3 separate regions of the Homo sapiens genome follow, and regions 1 and 3 are each linked to region 2. Evidence: fine-mapped expression QTL. A gene starts in region 2. Each other region holds a variant in brackets. All regions are shown on one strand. Distances are between the middles of the regions. Region 1 overlaps HADH (hydroxyacyl-CoA dehydrogenase). Region 2 holds the start of CYP2U1 (cytochrome P450 family 2 subfamily U member 1). Region 3 overlaps LEF1 (lymphoid enhancer binding factor 1).

Evidence for each region. PIP is the estimated chance that this variant, and not a neighbour inherited with it, causes the effect.
Region 1: its variant is fine-mapped to the expression of CYP2U1 in tibial nerve (GTEx, PIP 0.91).
Region 3: its variant is fine-mapped to the expression of CYP2U1 in whole blood (INTERVAL, PIP 0.92).

Annotation. Positions count from the first base shown.
Region 1 is chr4:108,001,898-108,004,658 of GRCh38, reverse strand. All of the region lies in intron 1 of HADH (hydroxyacyl-CoA dehydrogenase), which reads right to left. Among named protein-coding and RNA genes, the nearest start is that of HADH, 13 kb to the right of the region's middle. The variant G/A (reference allele first, on the strand shown) is at 1,258.
Region 2 is chr4:107,930,232-107,932,948 of GRCh38, reverse strand. It overlaps CYP2U1 (cytochrome P450 family 2 subfamily U member 1), which reads right to left and starts at 1,400. Exons shown (of 5, transcript NM_183075.3): 1 at 816-1,400. The coding sequence starts at 1,305. It overlaps CYP2U1-AS1 (CYP2U1 and SGMS2 antisense RNA 1), which reads left to right and starts at 830. Exons shown (of 7, transcript NR_125929.1): 1 at 830-978. All of the region lies in intron 1 of LOC107986298 (a long non-coding RNA gene), which reads left to right. It overlaps LOC124900751 (a long non-coding RNA gene), which reads left to right and starts at 1,364. Exons shown (of 2, transcript XR_007058221.1): 1 at 1,364-1,976. RefSeq lists enhancers at 663-732, 793-862, 1,523-2,030 and a silencer at 1,073-1,662.
Region 3 is chr4:108,066,636-108,069,396 of GRCh38, reverse strand. The region is part of intron 9 of LEF1 (lymphoid enhancer binding factor 1); the gene reads left to right. Among named protein-coding and RNA genes, the nearest start is that of HADH, 78 kb to the right of the region's middle. The variant G/C (reference allele first, on the strand shown) is at 1,345.

The DNA.
Region 1 (2,761 bases), 72 kb before region 2:
ACAGATATGGAAGTTCATGGTTATGGCTTCCAGTTACTCCTCCTGAATAAAATCTGGGGTTCTTCAAGTTTGGATTATTCATTCACAGCTTTTGGTTACATGTTGATTTGAGGCTACAAACAGAACAAGAAGTGCTAAGTTTCTCTTGGAAGCCAGGCAGCTGCACTGGAGTATACCACAACTTGGACAGCAAGGAAGCCTTTGTACAGTTTGGGTAAAAAAATGCAGAGGTTAGAAAATGCTTCCTTTTGAATGATCAAAGGTTACAGACAAAAACACTTGGCTTCTCAGAGGTGTGTGCTTTTGATCCTCTGCCCAAGACTTGTGCTCCCCTAGGGATGGACCAAAACTACCACTTAGACCACCACGCTGCGCATGCCACTGCATTCATTCCTTCACTGACTGCAGCCTATTGACTCAACACCTGCCTTGTAAGGTGAACAAACAAAATCCCCTACTCTCAAGAGAGCTTGCACTTTTCATAAATTATCTCCTCTGATCTTCATAACTGCCTTTGGGGAAGGCACATTATTCTCACTGTCTACACGTGACAGGGAGCTCAAGCTGCCTGCTCACATGCCTTTCTTGACCCTGGAAGGCATGGCGGGGTCTGAGGGCAACAGCCTGAAACAGTACTGAGACAGGCAAGGGCCAGACTCCAGAGCCTGTGTGCCAAGTTGGGGATGGAAAACATTCCTTAACCTCAGCAGGCTGTCTCCTCATCTATAAAACAGGGGCAACAGGGTTGTTGGGAGGGTTAAATGGGTTAATACAAGTCAAAAACCTGCAGTGGTGCCTGGCACATCACAATAGCTTGCGGGTTTTTTTTTTGTTTTTTTTTTTTTTTAATTCTGGGCTGCCCCCTTCTTCTTTCTGCAAGGGTCTGAGGCCTATTGTTGGATCCAGGCACAGCCTTCTAAGGTAAACTATTTTATTTTGCTTTTGATCTCACATCTTCTGATTTCATGACTTGTTTTTCAGTTTTCATTTTCAAGTTTTCCCTTCTGTGTCCTTCTATTTTTTTACAAACGGGCTGGGATCCTGCTCCATATAAAAAGGGAGGAAGAAAAGGATCCTCCTTAATCACCTGAGGCTGGCCTTTGCTTTACCACCAAAGTCTTTAAATTACTTGGTGGCATGGTGATATGTGGAGAAACAAGCCTATAGTTGGAGTTCCTGGGTTTAAAACCTGGCTATGATTTGAATGTGTCCTCTTCAAAAGTCAGGCACTGCCAATATGATAGTATTGAGAGGTGC[G/A]GCCTTTAAGAGGAGATTAGGCCATGAGGGCTCCTCCCTCATGAATGGGATTAAAGGTTTTTATAAAAGGACTTGACGGAGAAAGTTCGTCTAGCTTTCTTCCACCTTCTGCCATGTGCAGACAGCCTTCTTCCCCCAGCAAGACACAACGAGTAGGTCTGCACCAGACACCAAAGCTGGTACCTTGATCTTGGACTTCCCAGCCTCCAGAACTATGAGAAAATAAATTTCTGTTCTTTATAAATTACCCAGTCTCAGGTATTCTGTTAATAGCAGCAAAAAAAAAAAAAAAAAAAGACTAAGACACTGATTTAGCCACTCACTCACTGTGTGACTTTGGGTGAGCTACGAAGCCTCTATGTCTTGGTTTCCTGATCTGTCATAAAGGTTAGTAACAAAGGTACCCACCTCATAAAACTGTTGTGAGGATTAAAGAAGTTAATGTGTTTAACATGCTTAGACCAGTGCCAGGCATGTGAAGGTGCACAAAGCTTGTTAGCTGCTATTTTATTCACTACACTTGGTGCTTCTACTTTCTCCTGAGCCATTAAATTCCTAAACTCTAGTAATATGGCTTATTTCAGTCTGTTAGTGCTGCTATAACAAAATACCAAAGACTGGGTAATGTATAAACAACAGAGATCAAGATCATCAGCATGTTCAGTGTCTGGTGAGGGCTGTTCTCTGCTTCCAAGATGGTGCCTTGCTGCTGCATGCTCTGGAGCAAAGGTCCCCAACCTTTTTTGGCACCAGGAAGACATGGGAGACAATTTCACGGAAGACAATTTTTCTACCGTCTTGCAGGGAAGAGGGGATGGTTTAGGGATGATTCAAGTGCATTACATTGATTGTGCACTTTATTTCTATTATTATTACATTGTAATATATAATGAAATAATTATACATCTCACCACAATACAGAATTAGTGGGAGCTCTGAGCTTGTTCTGCTGCATCTAGATGGTGCCATGTGGGGATAATGGGAGACAGTGACAGATCATCAGGCATTAGATTCTCACAAGGACACGAAACCTAGATCCCTCACATGCACAGTTCACAATAGGATTCATGCTCCTATGAGAATCTAATGCAACTCTTGATCCAACAGGAGGCAGAGCTCAGGTAGCAATGCAAGTGATGGGGAGCAGCTGTAAATACAAATGAAGTCTTGCTAGCTGCTCACATCCTTCTATGTGGCCCGGTTCCTAATGGGCCACGGACCAGAAGTTGGGGACCCCTGCTCTGGAGGGGACGAGCACTGTGTCCTCATATGGCAGAAGGGAGAAGAGGCAAAGTTGGTCTCTCAAGCCCCTTTAAATGGCACTAAGCTGTTCATGAATACAGAACCCTCATGACCTAATCACCTCCTAAAGGCCTTATCTCTTAATACTGCTGCACTGGGGATTCAGCTTCGACATAAATTTTGGAGGGAACACAAACATTCCTATCAGAGTAGCTTCTTCCACCACCACTGCTGCATGAAATTAGATACAGTTGGTCCCCCC
Region 2 (2,717 bases):
TCATAAAGTTATGTAGCGTCAGTTTTGAAAAGTGTAGTGAAGGAAAAGTGCTTGGGCAAGGGACCTGGTTCTAACAAGGGAGGCTACCCTACTTGCAGAGGCTGTGAGAAAAGGCTTCCCCAAGGAAAAGGCATTTAACACCTGACTGATGCGTAGGAGTGACTCAGAAAAGAAGTCAGAGACCTAAGCCAGCCAGTAAGACAAAGGGGGACGGTAGAGACAGGTTAGATTGGACATTTTATTGCAGCAGATAACACGTTTTCCAACCCCCAAAAATGTCCAATTTAGACTCCCATACGCAGGAATCAGAGGCTATGAACCAAAGCCGGAGATTTGGTAATAGGCTTCTTCTGTGTTTTCTGGACTTTTTATCTTATTGGAAATTATCTTCTTAAATTCTTACATTCGAAACCCACAAGGTAAAAAGAATATCCTTCCCTCTTTCTAACATGGGGGCCAAAGTTTCTCTCCGAGGTCACAGCTGGTGGAAGGGAAGGCTACTTTTGGAAAGATGGAACCTGGCTTGCCACCTTGTCCTTCCGCCATCCCTATTACTCTCCCTCAATCTCCGGATGACTTTTCTACTTATGATCTTGGAGTATGAGCAAGTCACGCGTCCGTCACTACTTGATGGGATCTTAAAGGCATCAGAAAGGAGAAGCGCCGCCACCACCATCACCTGTTAGTTCAGGATGCAGGTGTGAGGCAGCCTGGGGGCGCGGGCGGCCGGAAGGGGCACAGGAACTGCAGCCCCCACGCACCTGGAGACTCATCCGCGGCATCCGCGTACCCACAGCCCACGACCTCCCGCTCACCCTTCTCCTTGGTCACGATGGAGATGAGCGGCACCCGCGGGCGGTCGCTGAAGACCTCGGCCTGCTGCACCAGCGCCTCGCGCACGCTGTGGAAGTCGCTGAGGACCACCACCAGGTAGTGGCCGATAAAGAAGCTGAAGATGCTGCCGTACACGCGGGCTAGGTGAGCCAGGAGCACCTGCGGGCCTATGACCGAGGGATCAATCCCTGCGGCCCTGGTCCTGCTGCTCAGCCAGCTCCGCCGCCGGAGGAAGGGAGGCAGCAGCACGTGACCGAAGTTGCCCACCAGAGGCCAGGGCGTGGGCCCGGGCGGGATGCCCCGCGCCCGGCGCCTCCGCAGCCAGCTCCAGCCCAGCAGCGCTACGAGGCCGCATAGCAGCAGCGCGCCCCCGCTGGGGTCCAGCCGCAGCAGCCCCAGAGGCGCACGCAGGAGGCGCGCGGGCCAGGGCGGGTCCTCGGCCGGCGGCTGCGACGGCCCCGGAGACGACATGGTCCGGGCGCCGGCGGCCTCGGGTTCCCCTTGCTGCCTGGAGGAGACGCGCACGCAGCTGCCTGACCCGCGGCGCCAGTGTCCTGCTCTGCTCTGGAAGGTCGGGGGCGGGCAGGGGGTGTAGGAACGCCCCCGGATTGGCTGCGCCGCGCGCATTCTCCCCGCCGCCGCCACTCAGCGACGCCTGGGCGGAACCTGGAGGCGCGCCGGCTGCCTGGCGGAGGGGGTTGGCGGGCTAGCAGGCGGGGGACCTGAAGTTTGCCCCGAAGTCCGGTTACGACCCTTTGCAGGGTCGGGCTTGGCGGTGACTGTCCCTGAAACTGGGATGCTGGCAACACAACCTTGCGCTCTGATTGGCTGTTGGTTTCCCTTGTGTCATTCGTTTGTCATTATCACTCGTTTGTCAGTTGACAAACACAAACGCATGGTTATGAAGTGCATAAACCGTGTTAGGATCTGTACTGAGTGTGGGAAACTGGTGAACAGGCCCGTGAGATGGGTCGGCCTTAGCACCTGTGCCCTGAGCTGGGAGAATGGGGTCAACGCCCTATTCCTGCATGCTTCGGTGTAGTAGTGAAAAGACGGGGTTCCTTATCTAAACTGGGATTCGCAGCACCCTTTCCTCCACGCAGAGACAGCAGGATGCTGGGAAGCCGTGGAATGCAGAATCTGTGGGTGTCGGCTTGGCAGCCAACTCTGCGGAAGGGATGATGGCGGGAGTGGGGGGAGCGAGGGGCGGGCAGCGAGGCACGAGGAGTCACGTTCTGAGAGCTTGCCCTGGGCTAGAAAACTTATGCGGAGAGCGAAAGCTGTGTCCATTCCTGCGTGTGGCCTGGGTGCATTAGAAAATGTACTTAAATCCAGAAATAGCGAAACCAGAATTTGCTTGGTGGATTTAAGTAGCTAGAAATATGAAAAGAAGATAACCGGTTGAGGGAGGGGTGGCAATATTATTATTGGTGTTAGACAACACTTGAAAGGCTGAGGTTGAAATATTAGATATGAATTGTATAATACTTTAAAAACAAAGTATTACTTTATTTTATCTTCTCAGATAATGGCTTTCCTGATAAGGGCTTCCCTTTCAGTCTTGTTTAGGCCAAATCCTGTAGTTTCTGTTCAAGTTGGATTGAGCATAGAATTGTCTGTACTGGGCCATTTTTCTAGCCGTTTCATTTTTCTCCATACATTAAAAGTTTGAACACCACGCTGTACCTATAAAAATGTGATCAAAGAAAGCATAGTGAGTCCTCAAATAAATACATGATCCATTTTATTTTTCTATAAACAAGTGATGCCAGTAGGATATGTTAAATTTCAAGTCCACTCTGTTCTCATATTCTTTTTGACATGCTTTTCATGTTATTTTAAGCTTATGCACCCCAAACAAAAAAAAAAAACCTCCACACCTC
Region 3 (2,761 bases), 140 kb before region 2:
AGTCTTGATAGGGCAAAGACTTTTATTTTATAGAGGGGAATAATTTTCACTATTTAAGCTCTTAAGTTAATTTAATATTTTGCAGTTATTATGTCTGAGTTCATGCAGCCTGCTATAATAAAATACCATGGACATGGTGAGTTATAAACAACAGGTTTATTTCTCACACTTCTGGAGCCTGTGAAGTCCAGGATTAAGGTGCAGGCAGGTTTGGTGTCTGGTGAGGGCCTGGTCCCAGTCTTCTGGCTGTATCTTTGCAAGGTAGAAGAAGGGGGAAGAGAGTGCTCTGGGGTCTCTTTTATAAGGACATTAATCCCCTTCATGAGAGCTCCTTGCTTAGGCTATGATCACCTCCCAAAGACTCTCCCTCATTATACCATCACATTGGGGGTTAGAATTTCAGCATATGTATTTGGGAGAACACAACATTCAGTCTATAGTAATTCTCAGGGTCTACGTGAGACAAGCATTAGAAATGCCAGCCAGGTCAGTCTTAATAAAAGTGAAATTATTTCTTTTTAAAAGAGCAAGAGTGAAGCCGTTAATTAATATACAATTTAATATGTAGCCATTGCTTTAGGTGCTGCTGTGGGGCTCAAGTTCTCACAAGAGATGATGACAAGGATGCATATCTGAGGTCATGCACACATGGAAACTTATTTCTGGAAATGGGTTGCACAATTTATTTCCTATAATATGCTCCACAGAAAAAGTCACTTTACTGGTCAAGGTTTGGAGCTCAGACATTGGATATAAGTTTGACACAGGAAGTAAGAGTCTGTCTGTTACTTATGGGAAACAGCATAGTCAGCTCTTCTGAGTTATTTTGGTTGCCTTAATAACTACCATATGCTGATGGTTAGGAACTGTCTTAAATTCTTGACAGCAACCCAGTGGTGGAATGAATACTATTACATGAATATTATTACTCCATTTTTCAGGTGAGGAAATTGAGAGGCTGAAGAGTTTAGGTAATTTATGCAAGGCCTTGTAGTAGGTGGCTAAGCTGAAGTTTTCACCCAGGTCACTCTGACTTCAAAATCTACGTGGTTTTCCTCCTCCTGAGTGGATTAGCTCAGTCTTCCAGTACCTTCTTTTTGTTTTGTTTTGTTTTGTTTTGTTTTGTTTTGAGACAGAGATTCGCTCTTGTTGCCCAGGCTGGAATGCAATGGCATGATCTCGGCTCACCACAACCTCTGTCTCCCAGGTTTAAGCGATTCTCCAGCCTCAGCCTTCCGAGTAACTGGGATTACAGGCATGCACCACCACACCCAGCTAATTTTGTATTTTTAGTAGAGACGGGGTTTCTCCATGTTGGTCAGGCTGGTCTCGAACTCCTGACCT[G/C]AGGTGATCCGCCTGCCTCAGCCTCTCAAAGTGCTAGGATTATAAGCGTGAGCCACCACGCCCGGCCCGGTGCCTTCTTAAGACTGCTGTAGTTGAAGAATTTTCACCCCTGAGCCAGGCTTCTGTTTTCTGAGCAGCAATTACCATCTCTATATAGAGCTCCTGCCATGCCCTGTAAGTAGGAAGATCAGTGTTCACCCAGAGGGTTTCAAAAGTGTCTTCTGGCCAGCCATGGTGGCTCACGCCTGTGATCCTAGCACTTTGGAAGGCTGAGGCAGGCAGATAACTTGAGGTCAGGCATTCGAGACCAGGCTGACCAACATGGTGAAATCCTGTATCTACTAAAAGTACAAAAATTAGCTGGGCATGGTGGTGTGCGCCTGTAATCCCAGCTACTCGGGAGGCTGAGGCAGAAGAATTGCTTGAACCCGAGAGGAAGAGGTTGCAATGAGCCCAGATCGCACCACTGCACTCCAGTCTAGGTGACAAGTGCGAAACTGTCTCCAAAAAAAAAAAAAAAGGATCTTCTAATCCTGCCTTAGGTGTCTTTTGGGTGTAGTTTGTCTAAAGGGGGAGAGCTAATCTTCCTCATATGACCTTTGTAAACTTCATTGTGCTGTGAATTTTATTCAGCATTGCTTCTTGAATGCCTTTAAATTTGTTTTTCTAATTCTTAAGTAATGAGTTTTAACTTTTAAAAAGACATGAAACAAACACCTACATATTCTATCTCTTTCTCTATCTGCTCTCTCTTCTCCATGTTGATGGGTGGGAAGAAAGTAGTTTTAAAGAAAGCTACTGTAATGTGATTTATCTTTAAAGATTTCCCTCTGCACAACTTTTAAAGGAAATTGTTTTGCATATTCCTTGAATGAAGGGAAAGCCCAGCTTCGTTCATAGTGTTTTCATCATAATCAAAATAAGTCATTCAATTACTGAGGCAAACAGAAGCTGATCAATGATAGTACTTTATCTAAAGATACTGTTCTTTAAATAACAGTACTGTACAGGGATAGAATAAAGGTAAAATTAAGGCATTTAGTGCCAGAATGGTATCCTGATCCTCAGTGAGATCGTGTGAAATATATATCTCAATTATTCAGTATTAAAATACCCTATTACATGACATAGATTTATAATTTGAACTTGTTTTTTTAACTTTGGCTAATAACAGGCTAATTAATAGTGCACAAATTTTCTTGGGTGAGATTAGCCAAATATTTATAATGTTAGAACTTTTCAATTTAGTTTTTAATGCTTTCCAATATTATACAGTCCGTATAATTTTAACAAAAAAAATTTTTTGTTTTTACCATACATGAATTTTGGTTTTTGTATAACTTGACATTAATACATCCAAACTACTTAGTTCTCTTTGCCTATCATAAATGTAGATTCTCTTGAAGAACTGGTTGAT